4 separate regions of the Homo sapiens genome follow, and regions 1, 2 and 3 are each linked to region 4. The links come from fine-mapping of genetic effects on gene expression. A gene starts in region 4. Each other region holds a variant in brackets. All regions are shown on one strand. Distances are between the middles of the regions. Region 1 overlaps LINC02878 (long intergenic non-protein coding RNA 2878). Region 2 overlaps PYCR3 (pyrroline-5-carboxylate reductase 3). Region 3 overlaps MAFA-AS1 (MAFA antisense RNA 1). Region 4 holds the start of MROH6 (maestro heat like repeat family member 6).

Region 1 (5,528 bases), 130 kb after region 4:
CAGAAAAGGCCTGGGGAGAGAATGGTGGTGAGGAGCCCATGGGGGTGTGAGGGGCCGGGAGGCTCTGCATCTTGCCCTGTTGGCCTCCTCACCACCCAGGCGGGGGTGGGGTGACAGAAGGGGCTCACAGCAGGTGTCCCGTAAGGAGCATCTTCCTTCCTGGGGCCAGCAGCCGTCACTCCCTGTGAGCCTGTAGAGCCGAGTTTTCTCTGCATTTATCTTGGGCAGAGAATGCATGAAGCTACTTCGCGGCCAGAATGGGTGCACAGCAGGGTCCGTTGACAGCCATGCCTGTGACCTAGCCTTCCACCCCTCTGTCTCCAGGGGACACTTGCCTGGCCTTTGTGTTAGCGCTCAGCACACATGTGTCCAGTGTAAAGTCCACCAAGATTAGCAGGGCATGGTAGCTGCCGCCTGTAATCCCAGCTTCTCAGGAGTCTGAGGCAGGAGAATTGCTTGAACCTGGGAGGCGGAGGTTGTAGTGAGCCAAGATCGTGCCACTGCACTCCAGCCTGGGCGACAGAGTGAGACTCCATCTCAAAAAAAAAAAAGTCCGTCGAGAGAGCAGGTGGCGGATGCAGCTGAGAGCTCCAGGAATGGGAGGGCCACGTGGTAGCCACTGGCAGCCTTGACTGAAAGATGAAGGAGTCCATGGTGCTAGGAGGAGGAGTTGCATCCCAGCAGGCTCAGCTCCTGGAGCTGCCTCTCTGCACTCTGAAGGGAGGCCCAGTGGCTGCAATATTCTTCTTTGGGAAGTACAATGCCAAGTAAATAAAGATATTTGGGGTCATTCTAGTTACAACGTATCATAAACTCTACTCACTGTTGTTCTGGGTGTTCATGGGGTCCGCCGTGCGTACCAGTCTTACAGGTCCTCAAACCCATTGGGACCCTTCAAACGAAGAGTGTGCGTGTGGAGTTGGCAGAACCTGACCCGGGCCAGGGTGGAGGGACAGCTGCGTCACTGAGTGCATGTCCAGCCCTAATAGCTCGCTTCGTTGTGTTTGTATCTGTGACCTCTTGGGAGCTAAATCACAGGCCCACCAAACGAAACGTTTTGGGGAATGTGAAATGGGTGGGTTTTGAGCTGGTCCCCAGTGTGAGCTTAATGTTGGAGCCATATTGGATTTTAAAACTTCAGAGGCTCCTTTTCCCGGGGCCAACCATCCTATGTAAAATTCGAGGGCCGATGGTGGAAGCCTGGAGTCCGGTTACAGTGGTAACTCCATGAGGGGAGACCAGCTGTCATGCACCTGAGCACCCAGAATCACTCACACTCCCCACTCCTCCCCTCCCCACACGTGCACACTTAGGAAGTGTGGCAGCCTGACTGCAGGAGAGCCATGATACCACACACAATCCAAACAAAGGCAGAGCAGCCCCGCCTTAGGACAGGTGAGCCTGTGGCCTGCACACCCATTGCCACAGCTGGAGGGCTGTGTCCTTTCCACAGAGGGGTCGGCCAGCCTCGTCTTCTGATCACACTACTTCAAAGGTGCTCAGTCCACTCACCCCACCTCCAGCTGCAGTGTCTCCACCGGGGACCACGACCACCATGTCCATGTTCAAGCAATTCTCTGCCTCAGCCTCCCAAGTAGCTGGGATTACAGGCACCCGCCACCACGCCCAGCTGATTTTTGTGTTTTCAGTAGAGACGGGGTTTCACCATCTTGGCCAGGCTGGTCTTGAACTCCTGACCTCGTGATCCACCCGTCTCGGCCTCCCAAAGTGCTGGAATTACAGGGATGAGCCACTGTGCCCAGCCACCTCAGGGCCTTTTTGCAACTCCGGATGTGGGAGATGACAAAACCACCATGCAAAGAGGGGAAAGGGCGGAAACAATTTATTTGAAAAGGAATAAGGAAAGTGAGTGACTAGTTAAAATTTCAGTATTTGGACACTGCTGAACAGATGTCGGGTGGATCCAGCAGCCGGGGAGCTGTGGTGGGCTGTACGGCGGCCGCCGAGCAGTAGGACACGGTCTCCATCGCCCATCACCTTCCTTGGGGTTTACTCAGCAACTCGGCTGGCCGCGGCCCTGGAGCCGCATGCCTGAGCATCTAAGGATTTCCTAAAGGGGCCTGAGGTCTGTCACCTGGACACGTGGCGAGAGACAGGGAGTGACCCTCTCAGATGACTTACAGGTTGGGAGAGGAGAGATGTCTGAAGGGAAATACACCAAGTCTTTTGTGGCAACTCAACGAAACTGATGGCTTCTGCCTTGTTCTTCAGGGCAGGTCCTCCTGGCCAAATCTGTTCAGCGTGCAGATGCAGACCTAGTCCTACTCTCTTCCTGATTCCATCTCTCCCTTTAATCCCATAGATAAAATCCAGCCCTAGGCTGGGCGCGGTGGCTCACGCCTGTAATCCCAGCACTTTGGGAGGCTGAGGCAAGCGGATCACTTGAGGTCAGGAGCTTGAGACCAGCCTAGCAAACATGGTAAAACCCCATCTCTACTAAAAATACAAAAGTTAGCCAGGGGTGGTGGTGGACGCCTGTTGTCCCAGCTACTCGGGAGGCTGAAAATGCA[C/G]TTCTCCAATCCCCCTTCGGCTGCCCTTCCTGGTAGGTGCTGAGTGTTGCTGGCCACAGCCCTCAGGGGCCGCCACCTTTGCTTTGACCTTCGCTGACGCAGATGTCTGTTCCAAGGTTATGCCCCTTCCTGGGGCCACATCCAGGAACTAGTAGATGGAGGGGTGCTAACGCCTGGCCCCGTGGCTCCTCTCTCAAGGACCATCCAGCTGCAGACCCCCACACAAGCCCTGCCACGCCTGCATGGAACTCGCCTCTCTCTGCACAAGCTCCCCACAGCAAACCCCCTGCTGAGTGGCCCGGGGTTGGCCCTGGGTGTCTGGCCCCACAGCACAGCGGATCAGACCTTCCACTTGGGGCCCAGAACACCCAGGCTCACGTCCTCTTCCTTGCTCGAGTACTGCCCTGTCCTGTCCATACACAGCCAAATCCCCTCGCCGTGGATCCCCGGGGTTCTGATTGGTCTGATGTGAAGAGAGATGTTCTCTTGCCAGAAGGGGTGGAATGCAGTTGGGGTTCCCTTGGCCAATACATCAGGCAACTTTTGTCTACAAAAGAGAGCTAAGTGCACGTTATTTTAGTGAAGTTTATTCCGAGTTACAATTCACACAGGCCTTCTGCTCTCCAGGAAATACAGCACAAAGGGTAAAGCCCCCTTACTGCCCCTACTCCTGTGGAATGAGCTTTCCTGATGGTGGAGTGTGTCCACTGTGAAAGCTGCCGCTACCAACATGGAGTCGGGGTAGCCCTGAAGTCCTCAGATACAGAGGCCTGTGACAGGACGCAGCCCAAGACACTCCTGCACGGAGACGGTTCCAGGACCCACAGGGCGCCCTCAGGGTTGCCTACCCCAGACGGACGCTTGCCCAGCAGTGACTGTCTCAGCCCACGCACTAATTCCAGCTCCTGTAACAGACTCCTGTAAAAGACCCTTGGCTTTGAAAACAGCTTATGTGGGCTTCTTTTTTGTTCTTGTTTTTGTTGTTGTTGTTTTTGAGATGGAGTCTCGCTCTGTCTCCCAGGCTGGAGTGCAGTGGTGCAATCTCGGCTCACTGCAACTTCCGCCTCCTGAGTTCAAGCGATTCTCTTGCCCCAGCCTCCCAAGTACCTGGGATTACGGGCGCAAGCCACCACACCCAGCTAATTTTTGTATTTTTAGTAGTGACTGGGTTTCTCCATGTTGGCCAGGCTGGTCTTGAACTCCTGACCTCAGGTGATCCACCCGCCTCGGCCTCCCAAAGTGCTAGGATTACAGGCGTGAGCCACTGCGCCTGGCCCTTTTTGTTTTTAAGATTCCCCTTTTCCCCAACTCCCCTGGATACACCTATAGCCTGCCAAATACCCCGAATTGCAATTCTCTGCAATTCTCAAATCAACTCGCTTATTTGGAGAGCTTGTCTCTTGAGTTTCTTTTTAGGTTGACACAACAAATACTTGTCCAACACCTGTGTAGGCACAAACCTGCGTGTGTGTGCTCCTCATCGTGTGGAGTCGTCCTGTGCGCCCCGCATGTGCTTCTTCATTCCGTCTGTGTGCGCTCTTTCCAGCAACCGCATGCTGTCCCATGAATGTGTCCTGTGGAAGGACACAGCCTGCAATCCCAGCGTTTTGGTGCTGTGAATTCCGCCGCAGTGAATGTCTTTGCTCTTACATCTGTGTGCACACGTGCCTGTATCCCCGCTCTTGCGTCTGTGTGCACCTGGGCCTTGCCAGGTTCCTGCAGCTGCTGTAACAGGACACCCCAGACCAGGTGGCTTCAGACAACAGAAATGAATTCTCTCAGTTCTGGGGGCCTGATGTCCACAATCCAGGCATCAGCAGGGCTGTGCTCCCTCTGAAACCTGTAGGGGAAGGATCCTCCCTTGCTTCTTCCAGTTTTGAGTGTTGCCAGCAGTTCCTGGCAGTTCTTGGCATGTAGAAAATCACTCCAATCTCTGCCTCTGTTGGCACACGCGTTCTCCCTGTGTCTCTGTCTTCATGTGACCAGCTTCTCATAAGGACACCAGTTACATTGGATTAGGGCCTACCCGCATGACCCCAGCTAATGACATCTGCAACAACCTCATCTCCAAATACAGTCATGTTCTGAGGTACTGGGGGTTAGGGCTTGAACGTAAATTTTTCAGGGGACTCTGCAACCCACAACAAAGGTACACAATGGATTCCTAGAGGTCGATCTGCTGAGTCAAAGAGCAGGGCTGTTTTAGATTTAATAGCAGCAGCCAGCCAACAAAATCAGGAGCGTTCCACACTCCCAGGCTCTGCAATGACACAGGTGCCCTCCACAGCCCCTTACTCTGGGTCTTCCTCATCCTGGCACTGGCTTGACTTGCCCCTCCCCGTTTCCTGGGCAGCATGGCTGTCTTCAGACACGCATCGGCATTTGTACTTCTTTGGTGTTCGAGTCGTTTCCTGTGTCTTCTGGTTGGTTGTTGGGTCTTTGGTGTTCAAGTCGTTCGCCTGTGTCTTCTGGTTGGTTGTTGGGTCTTTGGTGTTCAAGTCGTTCGCCTGTGTCTTCTGGTTGGTTGTTGGGTCTTTGGTGTTCAAGTCGTTCGCCTGTGTCTTCTGGTTGGTTGTTGGGTCTTTGGTGTTCGAGTTGTTTGCCTGTGTTTTCTGGTTGGTTGTTGGGGACATGCATCGGCATTTGTACTTCTTTAGTGTTCAAGTCATTGCCTGTGTTTTCTGGTTGGTTGTTGGGTCTTTGGTGTTCGAGTCATTTCTTGTGTTTTCTGGTTGGTTGTTGGGTCTTTGGTGTTCGAGTCGTTTCCTGTGTTTTCTGGTTGGTTGTTGGGTCTTTGGTGTTCGAGTCATTTCTTGTGTTTTCTGGTTGGTTGTTGGGTCTTTGGTGTTCAAGTCGTTTCCTGTGTTTTCTGGTTGGTTGGTGGGTCTTTGGTGTTCAAGTCGTTTCCTGTGTTTTCTGGTTGGTTGGTGGGTCTTTGGTGTTCGAGTCATTTGCCTGTGTTTTCTGGTTAGCTGTTGGGTCTTTGGTGTTCGAGTT
Region 2 (5,000 bases), 33 kb after region 4:
TCTCCACCTCCCGAGCTGAGCTCACCTAGTGCCCAGGGCTTGTCAGAGGTCCCAGGGGGAGACAGGTGTTGGTGCAAAGTCAATGATTTCTCCTTGCAGATGGGCTTGGTGTGAATGCAGGTGGCCGTCAGAAGGGCTGTCCACCTTCCTTCAGGGGGCCGCCTGCACCAGACCCCAGGCTCCCAGGCCTGCCCAGGCTTGGCATACAGTCCCCTGGGGTGACAGCGTGCAGGGGAAACTGCAATTCCATGCCCTACAAAGCCCCCAGGTGATGTAGAGGCCTGTAGCAGGCATGGGGAGACCTCTGCTGTCCACAGTGCCAGCACCCCCTTCGGCTGACACCTGTGCTTGACCAAGGTTCCAGGCCTCAACTTATGGGGCAGGCATTGGACCTTCTTTTTTTTTTTTTCCAAGACAGAGTCTTGCTGTCACCCAGGCTGGAGTGCAGTGGCATGATCTTGGCTCTCTGCAATCTCCGCCTCCTGGATTCAAGCAATTCTCCTGCCTCAGCCTCCCAAGTAGCTGGGATTACAGGCACGCACCACCACATCCAGCTAATTTTGTATTTTTAGTAGAGATGGGGTTTCTCCATGTTGGTCAGGTTGGTCTCAAACTCCTGACTTTGTGATCTGCCCGCCTCGGCCTCCCAAAGTGCTGGAATTACAGATGTGAGCCACTGGGCCCAGCCCAGAACTTGGTTTTATCCACCTCTGGTGAAACATGAGCTCACTTGGTGCTCTCTGGCCTCTTTATTCCCATCTCCTTAGGCTGACCCTGACAAGTGCCAGGGCCAGGCTTGGACCAAGCAGTCAACTGAGTCAGCCTGCCCTGGGAACCAGGCAGGGGAGGGAGCTTACGGACGGGCTAGGCTCAGGAGAGTAAGAGAGAGCAGATGAAGGGCAGAAGTCCGTGGCCGCAGAGGCAGCTGAGCATGAGGGATGGAGCGTGCTGCTGTCCTGCAGGTGCCGTTAGCCCTGTTTTGCACTGGTGGATTGATCTGCTCAGGCGCACAGGGAGATGGCACAGCAGGACCCGCCGCCCAGCCTCGCTGAGGGCATGCTCCCGCCTCACCTCCAGAGGCTGTTGGGCGGAAGCCGAGAGCTGCAGCAGTTGGGGCCAGCGTGGGACTGGAGGCCCAGGTGAATCTTGTGGGGCAGGGGACGGAGCTGAGGCTGTCCGGCCCGGGCCCTCCCCACCCAAAGGCCCTAGAACCCTAGCCTTCAATCCTGGGGGTTTGCTTCTCCCCTGAGTCCTGGCTTTCCTGACCTGCCGTCCGTTAGGGACAGGTGGAGGGGCCAAGTCTTGCCATCAGAGGCCAGTGTGGTGGTGCCAGAGCTACGGGGTATTCCAGGACCCCTGACCTAGGCACGGGGCAGGAGGGCCCAGAGCCACCTGGCCACTTGTCAGGAGCTTAGGATTGGGAGGAAAGAGGGAGCCTGTATCCAGACTAAAGCCAGGGGTCTGCATGTGTCCTGGCTGGCCAGGGCCACCCTCCCAGACCTCAAGCCACCCCACCTACCACTGCCCACCTGGTGCCACCCCAGCACTGCCGCAGACCTGGCCCAGCAGCTCCTGCTCCTTAGCAGGGGATGAGCACGCCCACCACAGCCACCCTCTTCTCCAGGCTGCAGGGCAGGCTCCAGCTCCCCATGGGGGCCCCATCAGGCCAGGGCCCCTGGCTTTACTGCAGGGGAGAGGGTCTCTTGTGCAGACCCCATATGGCTCGTGCCCCCTAGAGCTGAGATGAGGCAGCCGGCCTGGCTGTAGCTGCACGGAGCCACCTGGAAAGCCAAAGGCAAGCTCCAGCTCCAGACCAGGCATTGGGCCAGCCGTGCCTGTTACCGTAAGTTCTGTTCATGGCCTCAACCAACTGCCCAACCATGCGGGCAAATGACCAAGACGCCATCTCTTGGGCCCCTCAGAACCAATGTTGCAGCAAGGTGGGCTCACTGCAGCAAGGGGCAGAGCCACCACCACGGTGCCTTCTGCTCACTGGGGAGGGAGGAGTGTCCCCACTGGTCGGGGCTCCCCCGCCTGCTGGAACCTCCCAAGTCCTGCCCCCTGCATTTCCCTGTGCAAGGGGAGAAGGAGCAGTAGGAGACCCTCATGCAGGAGGGAGGGAGCCGCAGTCCTCAGGGGAAGGGACACAGGGAGAGGCAGGGGCACAGAGGCAGGAAAGGATGGCCAGAGCCCAGCCTACTTTCTGCTGAGCTCCTTGGCCC[G/T]GCAGGTGGCAGCCTCCACGGCGCTCATGGTGGCTGCTCGCAGCCCGCCCTGCTCCAGGGCGTGGAGTCCATAGATGGTGGTGCCACCCGGGGTGCACACGTCTGAGCGCAGCTGGGCTGGGTGTTGGCCCTCGTGCAGCAGCATCTTGGCCGTCCCCTGAGGAGAGCGTTAGGGCCTGGTGACGGGGGGAGGTGGTGCGGTCCCCACTGTGCGGCCTGCCCTCGTTGCATCCCCCAACCTTGGCCCCAGCTTCTCGAGCCTGCTGTTTCCCTGCGCACTGGAAGAGGTACAGGCCTGGGCCTTCCCGATGTTCCCCAGGGGCCACCCTCACTCACCAGCAGGGTCTGGGCAGCGATGCGGTGGGCCAGGCTGCTGGGCATGCCCATCTTGACGGCTCCTTCAGCCAGGGCCTCGGAGAATGCACACACCTGTAGCCGCGGCATGGTGGTTGGGGGGGATAGGTGTCAAAGCCTGGGGGCTCAGGACCTTCAGGAACAATGCCCAGAGCAGTAGCCGTGGGTGGCCAGAACCAAGGCCTGAGCCCAACGGTCTGCAAAGGGGCTGGCCTCAAAGATCCCCAAGGCAGTGAAGTCCCGGGGACAAGCAGAGCTCCCAGTGGGCCTGGGGAGCAACCACGCAGGCCTCAAGGTTGGACTCTGAGGGCAGAGGCTGTCAGAGGGACTGGGGTGGGCCCCCTCTTTGCCGAGGGTGGGGCCGGGGATGGACGAGGCAATACTCACGAAGGCCACGCCACTGCCACTGAGGCCAGTGTGGATGTCGACGTAGGCTTCAGGCACCTCCTCACACCGCCCACAGGCCTCCAGCAGATGCTGCAGGAGCTTGGTCTCGCTGCTCCCCACGTGGCGGCCCCGCGCCATCACTATGGCCCCTTCCTGGACCACACAGGGCAGGTTGGGCAAGACCCGCAGCACCCGTGTGTTTGGGGGCAGCAGCTGGCCAGAGAGAGGTCAGAATCAGGGAGTCTGTAGGACTGGGCCCTGCTGGGCAGGCCCCAGCAGGGGCCTCAGGAAAGGTCCACGTCAGCTCGCGGTGGGCTCCAGCGTCTGCCTCCCAGGTACAGCACCAGGAGGGAACCCTAAATCCAGCCACTTGATCCAGGTGGGCCACACGGCCACCTCTCAGGCTCTCTGGGGGGCTGCCTGCCGCCCAAGCCTGGCCAGCAGAGCCTATACTGGGACCAAGGCCTTAGCCCAAGGGACACTCACCTCCTCCAGGGTGCTCAGAGACACCCCAGCAGCCACGGACACCAAGATGTGTTCAGTGGTGACCACAGGAGCCACCTCTGCCAGGACAGCTGGCAGCACATGAGGCTTGGTGGCAAAGATGACGAGCAGGCAGCTCTGCAGCACCTCCTGGTTGGAGTGCGTGGTCCGGCAACCCAGAGCCTGCGCCAGGGACACCAGGACCAAGCCTCAGGGGCCATGTAAGCGGCGCACCCTCTCCATCACAGCCCTTCCTGCTGGATGCCACACGTTCCCATGGTCCCAGGGCCTCTCCCATTGCAAGTGTCTAGACCACCCCGACTTCTCCAGTGCCCAAGACTCCCCCAGACTAGCCCTACTCCTCACAGGCCATCCTGATGTCAGCGCCTCCCCAAGCCCTGAGCCCTCCATCCCCAGTGAATGTCTGTGACCACCACCCAGCATGCAAACACACCCATGCACATGCACGCACTCACGAGCATGCATTCATATACACACACGCAGACACATGCACTCACGAGCATACATACACATGTACACATGAATGCACTCATGAGCACAAACACATGCACACACACCCACTCGAGCATGCACTCATGTGTACACGCACGCACTCATACACGCACACACGCACTCATATACACATCTGCACAGGCACACATGCACAAGCACATACGTGCACTCACGACCACACAGGTGCACATGCACTCATGAGCATGCACTCATACACACACGCACACACATGCACTGACATACATGCACTCACCACACGTGCACACGCACACACAAGCGCACGTGCAAACGCACATGAGCACATACATACACACATGCACACGCATAGCCTCACATATACACACGTGCATATACACACACTCACGGACATGCACTCACACATGCATACACACACACACACAAACACTTTGCTTTGGCCCTCCACAACCTTACTTTCCTCCTGGCCTCTAATCTCCCTTTTCCCAGCCCAGACCAGCCAGTCTGCAAACTTCAGCTAAATAAACCACCCATCCCTGGCTCTGATAAGTGTCTTAGTGGGACAGGAGCCAAGAGCTATCCTGGGCTCCTGAGGGTATGAAGAACCTGGGCTCTATGCTCACTTGAAAGTGACATAGGTTCCTGTCTGTTGGTGCACTGGCCAGTATGTGCTGAGCTTCCACTTTTCCTGGAAAGAAAGGAAAAGGAAGAGGGGTTGGTGAAGGGGTGGGATAGGATGGCACGGAGAGGAGAGGGAGCTCACTTGGCCTCTCAGGCTCAGCCACGCCTGGCCCATCCTGGGCCCCCTCCTGGCCCCAGGAACCCAAAGCGGGATGCACCATTCACTGGGCCCAGGCAATCAGATCCACTGATTCTACTTGGCGGTCAACGCCCCTGACTGCTGCTGGGTATGGAGGCCAGGAGCTTACCTCATTGGTGAGGACACAGATCCCTGGGGCCTCTGCCTCCAGGGAAGGGAAGGCTGCCTGGAGCAGAAGAGGCAGTACCTCTGGAGGAACACCAGGCCTTGGGGGAATGTGGTGGGTACAAAGGCAGTTGATTGGC
Region 3 (5,528 bases), 150 kb before region 4:
CGTCTTACTACATTTGATTTATAAAAGACAGATGTGCATATATCACTTCAAAAAAACAAAAGTGGATGTGGCTGATGCCAAAGTGACCTGCCCCAGAAGAGCTGCTAACAGAACAGCATCCCAGGAGGCTGCAGAAGGCTGAAGAGCAGAGCCCACACCTGCTATGGGCCACAAGAGGCCCTGGATGCCATGGAGGCCGCAAGGGCCCAGGCGGGACTTGCAGAATGAGAGTCCTAGGCCCAAGTATAGAGTCCCTGGTGGGCACAGAGGAGAGACCAGGTCAGTGGGAGGGGTTGTCAGACCCTGTGGAGTGCCCCACCTGTGTGCCAGGCCCAGAACTGGGCTCAACTCTGATGGTAGCAGGTGGAAAGTAGACTTCACTACTGTGGGAGTGGGGGCATTCCTGGACACAGGGGGAAACCAGCTCACAGAACAGCCTGGGGTCTTCTTGGAGGAGGCCATTTTGGCCCAGATCCTAAAGGAAGACTGGAAGCCTCAGGGGGCAGTGAGAACAGGGACAAGAGAGGGCAGGTCTCAGGACTGACTGAGCAACTCAGACTGACCTGGATCAAACTGTGGAGCCGGCGAAGGGTTTAGAGGGTTGCTGCAGGACAGTGGTGTCTGCAAAGACGCCTCTGGCTGCTGTCTGGAAAATAGACAGGGGAGGCTGGGCAGGGGTCTGGGCAGGGGCTGGACAGGGGTGCTGGGCAGGGGCTGGACAGGGGTGCTGGGCAGGGGCTGGACAGGGGTGCTGGGCAGGGGCTGGACAGGGGTGCTGGGCAGGGTCAGTCCATCTCCATCCTGCTTTCCTTTTCTTTCTTTTCAACAAATATTGATGGAGCACCTCCTCGGTGCCAGGCGCTGCTGCAGCCTCTAGGAAATCAACCGTGGAAACACACGGACCCTGCCCTCCCGGCGCCAGTGTTCTGGTGGTCAGGAGGTGAAGAAAACCAGCAAGAACCAGCACAGGAATCCGACGGTGGCAGCGCCGAGAGAAACAAGCTTGGAGGGGAAGGAGAGCTACAGAGGCTGCATGGGTGAGGCCAGCTTCTTGAAAATGGAGGTGTGAGATTTGAGGAGGGCTCTGGAGAGAAGAGGGAAGAGGGCCCAGGGGAGAGATGAGCAAAGGTTCGGTGGTACAAACTGAGCTCCCTCACTCCACGTTTGGAGTCATTCCACAGCTTCCTAAACCACCCACCCAGGCAACCCCATCCCCCTACCCACCCATCCACCCACCAACTCACCCCCAACCCCCCACCCACCCATCCTCCCACCCACCTGCCAACCCCCTACCCACCCACCCACTCATCCTCCCACCCTCCAACCCCCTACCCACACACTCACCCATCCTCCCACCCACCCTTCAGCCCCCTACCCCCCACCCACCCACTCATCCTCCCACACACCCTCCAACCCCCTACCCAGCCACCCACCCACTCATCCTCCCACCCTCCAACCCCCACCCACCCACCCACTCATCCACTGACTCTCTAACCCCCTACCCACCCATCCACTCACTCATCCACTCTTCCCCATACCCCCCCACCCACCCACTCATCTTCCCACTCACCCCCATACCCCCTACTCACCCACCCACTCACCAACTTACCCGCCCATCCATTCATTCACCCTCCTCCCACTCACCCACTCCCACCCATCCCCCATTCCCCCATGCCTCATCCTCCCATCCATCCATCTACCCACTCACCTACCCAACCACTCACCCATCTACCCACTCACCCACGCACCCTTCCATCCATCCACCCACCCATCATCCACCCACTCATCTGCCCATCTCCCCATTCCCCCACCATCCCATCCATCCATCCACCCATCCACCCATCCATCCACCCAACTGACCATCCACGTATCCACTCACCCACCTGTTCACCCATCTACACACCATTTATTCACCCACCATCAACCATCCATATATCCTTCCATCCAGCCACTATCCTCCCGTTCCTACCCATCCTGCTGTCTTCCTCATCTTTCTTGTCACACGTCCAGCTGTCTGTCCGTTCATCCACCCATCACCTCATATGCTCCTTTTGTTTTTACCTCTTTCACCTTTCTTCATCTTCAAATGCAGATGTGATGGTTGGAGTGGAAGCTGACATTGTGGGCCAGGAGACCCTGGGAGTACAGGCCAAGATGAAAAGAGCCTCAATCCAGAGCGTTCTGTGAAGCAGTCACCACGGCCACCCTGGGCCATCAGCTTCTGGACTTTTACAACATAGAAATTAAATTTCCATTGAATTTGTTGGAGTCATTGTTCCTTCAGCTCTCTGTTACCTGCACTTACATCTCTCTGTGAGTCGCGGAGTCTTGCAGTTAAGGTATTAATATTATTGCGTCTCAAGGTGCCTCAGGTCAGAGGTTCCAAAGGTGAATGAGGGCACAGCTCTCCGTCTGAGACTCACGGTGGAGAAGCCTCCTCACCTTGCTCCTTCTCCCTGTCACCAAGAAAGGAGGTCTGGGGGAAGGAAGGGGTCCGTGTGGCCCTCCCGCCCCCACACTGTCCCTCTTGGATTCTGCTAGCCTGTGGGTGTGGGCAGCAGCTCAGCCTGGCCCTGGAATTTTCCATAAAGGTCTTTCCAGGTAAGAATGATTAGACAACATATTTTGTATTCATTATTATATAGTGCGTTTTAAATGTTATTTACGTGTATGTGGGTGGGTAAGATTTAATGGCTAAAGAGTGCTAGACAGCGGGAGCCAGGAGTGTGTCTGGGCTTGTCACATGAATTCCTGCAGAAATAATTCTCTTTTGGAGAATGCTGAACGTCATACCTTCCTGATCGTAACCTCAACGTGGCCCTAAGCGCCCTGTCCAGGGCCCCAGAGTTTCTGAACTCAGCTTAAGTCAGCTCCCCAAATTCAGCAGAAAGTGGGAGGAGTTGGGGCTGTTCTGTCCCTAGTACACAGGTCTGGGCAGGGCTGGGTTTTACCTTCTGGGAAGGGCTGTGGAAGGGAGGGTGAGGGGACAGACCCAGCGGATGAGGGGTTTGAAAAGGAGGAGTGGGGACTGCAGTGATGGGCAGCGCACTGCGGCTGAGTAGGGGGAGGAAAGCCTTCTGGGAGCTGAGCTGGGCTGA[G/A]CTGGGGACCCCCCATGGATGGCAGCTCTGGGTGCCCCTCCCATGCCTGCTCCTTCCCTGCTCCCCTCCTGCCAGGAGCCAAGCTCTGTTCCCCCAGGCCCCTCTGCAAGCCCCACAGACGTGGCCAAGACATCTCCGGTCTTGGATTGGGGGCACCCCTGTAAATCCCGCCCCGGTGCACCTGGAGAGGCACATCCCACTCCACGCCCTCCCCTCGGAACAGAGCCCCCTCTTCCAAGAAGCCTTCTCAGATTGACGAAGGGCTTGCTGAACGGGTCCCTCTCTTTACTGCTCATGAGGCCCCTGTGTGGATGGCCGATGGGAGGAGCGTCTTCTTACAGATGAGGTGATTGAGCCCTGAGAGACGGCCCCCGCTCTACCTCCAGCTGGGGAAGGGCAGAGGTCAGGCCGACTCCAGTCCAGCCCCTCTGCCACCATGGCGGGGGTGGCCTGGTGACTGGGCCGGGGGGCTGGGGAGGTGCCCACCTGACCTAACCAAGGCCAGTGACGAGGTCCAAGGCCCCGTCTCCACCCACGCCCCACCGCCTGACCCGCCTCCAAGGCGATGGCAGCCCCCACCCTGCTCCAGAGAAGACGCGTGGACAAGGTGAGGAGGAGACCAGAGCCTTCCTCCCAGACTCGCAGAGCCACCCCCGCGCGAGCCCTCCGCACCACCCGCACCTCCTGAGCTCTCAGGTATGGTGGTGCCAGGGCGGTGCACCAAGCACCCTCAGATGTGCTGCGAGGCTGCCCTTCGGAGGCACCCGTGCCGGCCTCCTGCTCTTCCATAGGGCAGCGGGCCCAGGCAGGGCACAAGGCGGACAGAGTGTCCCGTCCCCCATGCGATACGCCCAGGACCCAGAGGGCAGAGACGGTGGGTGAGGAACCATCTCTGCAGGGAACCGCCAGCAGGAACAGAAGGGTGAGGGGCCGGGCCAGCGACCTCCCTGGACTGTGGCAGCTCCCGCCTGTGCCCCCACGATCCTCTCTACACAGAAGCAGGGGCCCCTGCTGCCCCCACAGTGGCCCCAGGATCTGTCCCCAGTTCCTCGCCGCCCTCCCTGCCCCCATTTCACGGCTGCTCCCCTGCAGCCGCTCCAGCCCCGACTTTATACACACAGGCCCAGCCACCTACGGGCAGGCGAGGCCTCCTGGAGGCCCGGCGGGCTCTTCCCCCTCCCTCCCCGCCCTTTTCCTCTCCCGATTTCCTGGCCACCCTCTGGCTTAGTCTGCAATTCATCTTCCCGTCTCTCTTCCCATACCTGAGCCTCGTGCCGCCCGGGATTGCGGCGCCCGCGCCACCACGCTGGGGTAATGGTCCCAGCACCGCTGCCCTGCGTCCTGCCGCGCCCCAGCCCGCGCGTCTCACACACCGCGACTGCGTGTCTACAGGTGCCGCCTCTTGACGCCTCTGCTGCACCGCCAGTGCCCCGCTCGGCAAAGCACAGCCCCTCCCCAGCACTGCAGCAAATGGGCAGGAGACCCCCGCCCGGCCGGGGGAGCAGGGGCAACGGCAGGGCCCCAGTAGAGAGGGTGGAGCTGGAGCCGAGGCCGGGCCAGGCGCCTGCGGGGCCTAACGCTTCTGAGACAGGCGAGCCGTGCTCCGTGCTCCGTGCTCCGGGACGAAGGGGGCTGTGGGGTCGGCAGAGGGCTTCCCGTGAGGAGGAGCACACCAGGAGTGCTGAGGCCGGGGGTGGGAGGCGGGCAGATCCCTCAGGAGGGTGGGCTGGAGGGCCGGGACAGCCATGGGCGGCTTCTGTGCGGAGGGGCAGCCTTGGGGTTGAAGAGAGGAGACCAGAGGCTGCAGGGAGAAGCTGGGGATGGGTGGGGTGGGCCCAGCCAGGGCCCCTGTGTTTGAAACTCCCTTGTCGCAGAGGAGCCGTGGGCTACGCCCCTCCCCCAGGGCATCAGCTCCCCTGGGGCATCTGTACCAAGAGCTGGGCAGAGGCGGCGGCTGGAGAGGGGCCACCCAGGGCATGTGGCTTCCCGGAGGACATGGCTTGTCCCTGAGACCCACCCCTCTGGGGGAGGTGACCAGACACCTGGGTCCCAGCCAGGAGACGGGAGCAAGGGTGCTGCAGGAGAAGGGACTCCGGGACCCTCCTTCCTAGAGAAGCCAGAGTCCCCTAGAGTCCCGCGGGGCCCCGCCAGCAGCCTGGGACTCTTCTGTGCCCAGCACCCTGCCTGCACGCTCACTGCTGCTCCCAGGCTGCTCCGGGGAGGCGATCAAGGCCCATGGGGCTGGCGCCTGGCATGTTCCAGATACCTCCCTGTGTCAGCCTCTGAGGACTGGGTGGGAGGGAGGCAAAGGGGCCATCCCCTGCGAGCTAGACCACGCTGAGTGGGTGCCGGGAGGTGCAGTGGAGTCGGGGAGGCCCCAGGGCGGAGCCCGCCACATGGGAGGGAGGGGCTGGGCCACAGACGCAAGTC
Region 4 (5,000 bases):
ACCTGGTGTTGCCTCTCACCTGGCATGGCTATGTGGTGGCCCTCGGTGGGACAGAACCCAAATCTTGGGCATGTCGGGGGAGCACGGGCTGCGGGCCAGCTTGTGCAGCTGTGTGACCAGCGCAAGCAGCAGATGTGGGTAGAAGCCCCTCGTGGCTCCCACGCAGCCCGAAACAGCCAGCATCTCCCCAAGAGCACGTGTGGCCTGTGGAGCAAGTGGCCCACTCAGGCCTGGGGCACGCCTGGAGCTGCACTGGGCAGCAGAGGGACAGGCGTGCTGTCAACAGGATGGGGACAGCCTCAGACACGCATGGGACATTCCAGGAGCAGTTACCTAGGTGCAAACTCCCTATGCCCATCCTCCCCGCTCCTCGCCACCCCCCACCCCCGCCCCCACCCCCTGGTAATGGCTGGAGCCACCTACCGCCAGTGCCTGGGGCTCCGGCCCCGAAGCACCCTTCAGCGCCCACAGCAGTTGCACCAGCACCTGCCCATTTACACGCTGGTTACGGCTTAGGCTGCGCCAGAGCTCGGCTGCTACCCTGAGGGTTTGGAGGGGGCTGGTGTGAGACAAGAGATGGGTGGGTGTCCAGGGAATGTAGGGAGTCCCCAGCCAGGGTGGAGGCAGCCAGTAGGACTCCAGCAGGGGAGGGGCAGGAAACCCCTCCCATCTCCCCCCATCCCCAAATCTCAGAGAAACAAATGAAGGGTTAATTGTGCAGACCACAACATAGCCTATCTCAAGCTGAGCTGCAGGGTGGGGACCCACTGGGAGTCCCGTTGGGTCAGCGACAGTGAAACAAACCTGGCATTATTAAAAAGAAAAAAATTGCCACAGAGAATAAAACCAAAGATAACTTCTGGGGCCAATTAACCAAAGAGCCAGGGGTGTCCAGGCACGTTAGCCCCCCAGCCTCATTCACCCCACTCCGGAGCCAACCCCAGGACGGTCTCCAGGGGAGGCCACCCGAAGATAGAAGGTGGCTCCAAGAGAGGAGCCCAGCATCAGAAACTCTGTGGCAGGAGTGTGGGGGGAGTTTGCGGAGCTAAAAATGAGGGGAGCGGGAATGGATACGGGGCATGAGTCATCGCGGGGCTGGAATAAGGAGGCCCTGCCCCTTTTCAGCTCCCTCTTCTGGGGCCAGACTCCACCGCCAAGCGGGAAGAGGGAAGGAAGCCGCGTGGGGACCGCAGGGCCAGGACGGTTGGGTTACCGATCGGCGGGCAGAGAGCGGGGTAGCAGCGCACACACCACGTCCCGCGCATGCTCCAGGGCCAGTGCGCTCAGCACTCGCAGGGCCGCCCTCCAGGGCCTCCCCTCCGCTAGGCTGGGCACCTGCGCCAGCAGCCCACGCACCAGAGCATGCACCTGGTGGGGAAGGGGGCAGACTTCAGCAGTCAGGCCTCCTCCACCGTCCATTCCCCTCTGGCCTGCACCCCACCTCCACCCCCACCCTGATCCCGCCTGGCAGGAGCAGCCTGAAGATGGCAGGGTCAGGCTGCGCTCTCCAGGCCCCTCCCACCACCTTGGTGCCCGAACCGGCAGGATTCTGTAGGGCATGAAGTGGGTGAAGGCTGACCTGGTCCTCCAACCGCTCGCCCCGGGCCTCCAGGGCTGAGGACAGGGTGAGCACTGTCGCCTGGGTCCCTGCAAAGCCAGCCTCCTCCAGGCAGGCAGCCGTGTACAACGCGAGGTCGGCAAGAACTCCCTCCTCCCAGGAACTCTGGGGAACCTAGGGCAGGATGGGTGGGGCGTCTGAAGTGCCCAAACCTCTCCTAGCTCTCCTCCTGGTCCCTCGGCCTCCCACCTGGCTTCCTACAAAATCCCTTGCTCCTCTGTTGCTCACCAGCCTGTTTCACGCTGACCTCCCCCGGGGCCAGCACCGCCCCCCTGCCACCCCGCCTTCCACCTACCATCCACAGGACCCCCAGGCCGGTTCGCACAACATCCCTTCCCTCCCCCGTCACCTGGTGGGGCCCCTCAGGGGCTGGTTCCAGGGCACTGTTGAGGGAGCAGGGCTCGCTGCCAGCTTCAGGGACGGTGGCCCCACGTCCAGGCTCTGCCTCAGAGGGGGCGGTGAGTGCCTGGGTCTGTGGCTCAGCCTCAGGTTTGACCTCCCAGGACTTGGGCTGAGGGCCTGCGGAAGGGGGTCCCTGGGGCTGCCCCTGCCTGGCCCGGATTCCTTCAGTCAGTGCTGTCAGGGTTAGAGCCCCCACGGGAGCCTCCCGGGCCCGGCTCCGGCCCCACACACCCCCAGCCATGGCGGCCCTTGCCTGCAGCACCTGCCGCTGCTCCTCCTGCGAAGTTGTGCCCAGGACTGACCTAGAAGCCGCCCCGGGCGGGACCACGGACGGGCGTGGTGGCGTGCGCTAGCGTGAGCTTGCGGGGGCTGGGGAGCCACACGGACGTGCCTACAATGGGCCTTTGAGGGGCCCTCCTGCCTGGGCTGCTGGAGGGGAGTGGCCACCTGCAGCCTGAGTGCCTGTGGTGTGGCTCTACCCACCAGGGCCCTGAGAACAGGATCCCCAAGAGCTGGCAGATCCACGAAGAAAGGGGGAGAAGGGCCCCCACCCTGACTACCAGCCCCTGTTGACCAGGGAGCTCAGGGCAGTTGTGGACAGCTCTGAGGAGGTCCTCGCAGGGTCCAGGAGTCTGGGCCCCACCCTGAGTCGAGGCCTGATTCAGCCCCCAAGCAGCAGTCAGCTCCCCACTGGGCCTGGGGCTAGGGGCTGGCCCCGCCCCCTGCACGCTGGCTCCGCCCCCTGCACGCTGGCTCTGTCAGACACCTTGCAACAGGCATGACTGGGTGAGCTTGGGGCAGCCCGGAGGTGTGGAGGGGGCAGTGAAGACACCAGAGGAGCGGTGGCCCCTCCAGAGCTTGTGCAGGCCCCTCTGGGTCCTGGGTCCTTGGCCAAATCTCATGTTGAAACGTAATCCCCAGTGCTGGAGGTGGGGCCTGGTGGGAAGTGATTGGATCCTGGGGGCAACTTCCCCCTTTGGTGCTGTTCCCATGATAAGACTTCTCAAGATCTGGTTGTCTGGAAGTGCGTGGCACCGCCCCACCCCTTCCTCCGGCCATGTAAGACCTGCCCGCTTCCGCTTCCACCAAGATGGTAAGTTTCCTGAAGCCTCCCCAGCCATGCTTCCTGTACCTGCAGAACCACAGGCCAATTAAACCTCTCTTCCTTAGAAATTACCCAGTCTCAGGTATTTCTTTACAGCAGTGCAAGAACGGAAGAATACAGCCACTCTGGCTGGGCCCCTCGGAGTGCGCGGGTGCCCTGGGGGTGCCTGGGGTGTGGTGTGTTCTGTCCAATGTGTGTGAGTCTGTATCTCTCTCCTAGCTCGTACTCCCCGGGGCTGGCTGGACTGGGCCTCTGCTCCAAGTCCCCACCCTCCACCCTCAGCCAACCACACAGTGGTGCTGCCCACCCTGAAGCCCGGGGAGCCAGGTGAGCTGGTCTGGTGGAATGCCTGGGCAGACGGAAGTGCCCCAGGCGGTCAGCATTCCCCCCACACCCTTGCCTGTCTGTGCCACCTCAGGCTGCTTCGACAAGAGAGGCCCAGGCCCCCAGCCTCCACTTCCTGCCAAGCCTAGAACCTCTCCCCCAAGCAGTTCCTCTTGAAGCTCACGTTGCCCAAACTGGCGGAACCCTGAGATCAGGAACTTGCTGGTGCAGAGGCAGGGCCAGCCCAGCACAGCCACGTGCAGTGCCACTCTGGCCAGGTGTCTGGGGCTGAGTCATCTCCTGGAGCTTCAACTTCTTCCCCATTCTTCCTCTCCTTCCGTGGGCTGCTGGGTCAGGAGCTGTGTCCCTGACGCCAGATGCCAGGGTGGTGCTGGGTTGGCAGCAGCAGTGGCAGGAGACACCTGAGCACTCCCTTTTGACTTGGGGAGTTTGAGACGTCTTCACTGACCCTGAGCCTGGGGGGCAGTGCCTAGGCAGGCGTGGGAGCCCAGGGCCACGGCTGGACCCTCTTACCTGGCACTACCCCCAACCCTGTCCTGTCCCCAGCCTGCCTCTAGCAAGGAAAGGTCTGCAGCAACTCCCTCAACTCCAAGGCAGACACCAAAGCCCTCCCTGCCTGTGGCTTTGTAGTTCTAGTGTGGGATCTGACTCCCCACAGCCTACCCAAAGCCGGGGAACTCCTCACTGCCCTTCGGGCTTCAGCACAGGGCTGTCTCCCACGCCGGCAGGGCCTGTGCTTTCACTGGGATGCAAATCTTCCTGCTACCTCGAGCTCAGATTCCCGACTCCAGCCCAGCCGCAGCCCGGGAGGCGCAGCCCGTGGGCTGGGTGAACAAACGACACAAACAACACAGGACAAGCTGTGGGGAAAAGTGAGTGATTCGTGTTGTTTCCAGTCAGCCCCGCTCCGAGTCTCAGGGGGACTGCCCCGCACACAGACTGTTCACCAGGGCCTGCAGCCTCTCGGACAGCACCACCTGCAGGGAGCAGAGGACAGGAGCGGTGGGCAGGGTGAGGGCGGGGGCGCACAGGGCAGAATGACAGGGTGGGCCTCCCCCCAACCTGGTACTGTGCAGGGCTCCGCAGCCGCCTGTGCTCAGGGCTGAGTCGGCTCAGGGACAGCTGGGCCAAGGCTCTAGACTCTGCCAGGGATGGGAGCGGCTCACACAGCTGCAGGGAGGAGGTAAGGAAAGAGAAGCTTGGGGCTAGCTCCCAGTCAGGGCTCTACCGGGGCTGGGGGTCAGGATGAGGGCGGTGGGGCAGCCACCTGTCCCTGCTGGAGGCAGAGCCGCAGTAGTGGCTCCACCTGGGCTGGCCTCACGGTGCAGGGCTCCTGGGCCCCTGGAGGCCACACCCTCAGCTCCTGCCCAGCCTGTGGCACTGGCTCTTCTGCTAACTGCAGCATGTCCATGAGTGGAGACCCTGTGTGGACGGGGCAAGAATAAGCGGGGGCCCTGGTGCTTTGAAGGTGGACAGCAGGGGGGATGGGAGGGCCTCACCGTCAGAGCCCAGGAGCCGGAAAGCAGCCTT

Evidence for each region. PIP is the estimated chance that this variant, and not a neighbour inherited with it, causes the effect.
Region 1: its variant is fine-mapped to the expression of MROH6 in cerebellar hemisphere (GTEx, PIP above 0.99).
Region 2: its variant is fine-mapped to the expression of MROH6 in whole blood (TOPMed, PIP above 0.99).
Region 3: its variant is fine-mapped to the expression of MROH6 in whole blood (INTERVAL, PIP above 0.99).

What each region holds. Positions count from the first base shown.
Region 1 is chr8:143,697,615-143,703,142 of GRCh38, forward strand. LINC02878 (long intergenic non-protein coding RNA 2878) reads left to right here. Exons shown (of 2, transcript NR_015445.1): 1 at 1-27; 2 at 325-799. Among named protein-coding and RNA genes, the nearest start is that of LINC02878, 3.3 kb to the left of the region's middle. RefSeq lists an enhancer at 2,180-2,680. The variant C/G (reference allele first, on the strand shown) is at 2,532.
Region 2 is chr8:143,603,504-143,608,503 of GRCh38, forward strand. It overlaps PYCR3 (pyrroline-5-carboxylate reductase 3), which reads right to left. Exons shown (of 6, transcript NM_023078.6): 2 at 4,559-4,623; 3 at 3,450-3,629; 4 at 2,964-3,176; 5 at 2,559-2,651; 6 at 1-2,379. The coding sequence ends at 2,197. Among named protein-coding and RNA genes, the nearest start is that of PYCR3, 3.6 kb to the right of the region's middle. The variant G/T (reference allele first, on the strand shown) is at 2,223.
Region 3 is chr8:143,416,883-143,422,410 of GRCh38, forward strand. MAFA-AS1 (MAFA antisense RNA 1) reads left to right here. Exons shown (of 3, transcript NR_186795.1): 2 at 859-1,037; 3 at 2,093-2,268. Among named protein-coding and RNA genes, the nearest start is that of MAFA, 11 kb to the right of the region's middle. The variant G/A (reference allele first, on the strand shown) is at 3,099.
Region 4 is chr8:143,570,454-143,575,453 of GRCh38, forward strand. MROH6 (maestro heat like repeat family member 6) reads right to left here and starts at 2,319. Exons shown (of 14, transcript NM_001100878.2): 1 at 1,968-2,319; 2 at 1,580-1,732; 3 at 1,214-1,368; 4 at 424-541; 5 at 20-204. The coding sequence starts at 2,261. NAPRT (nicotinate phosphoribosyltransferase) reads right to left here. Exons shown (of 13, transcript NM_145201.6): 10 at 4,970-5,000; 11 at 4,738-4,892; 12 at 4,533-4,640; 13 at 4,332-4,447. The coding sequence ends at 4,385. RefSeq lists an enhancer at 828-1,677.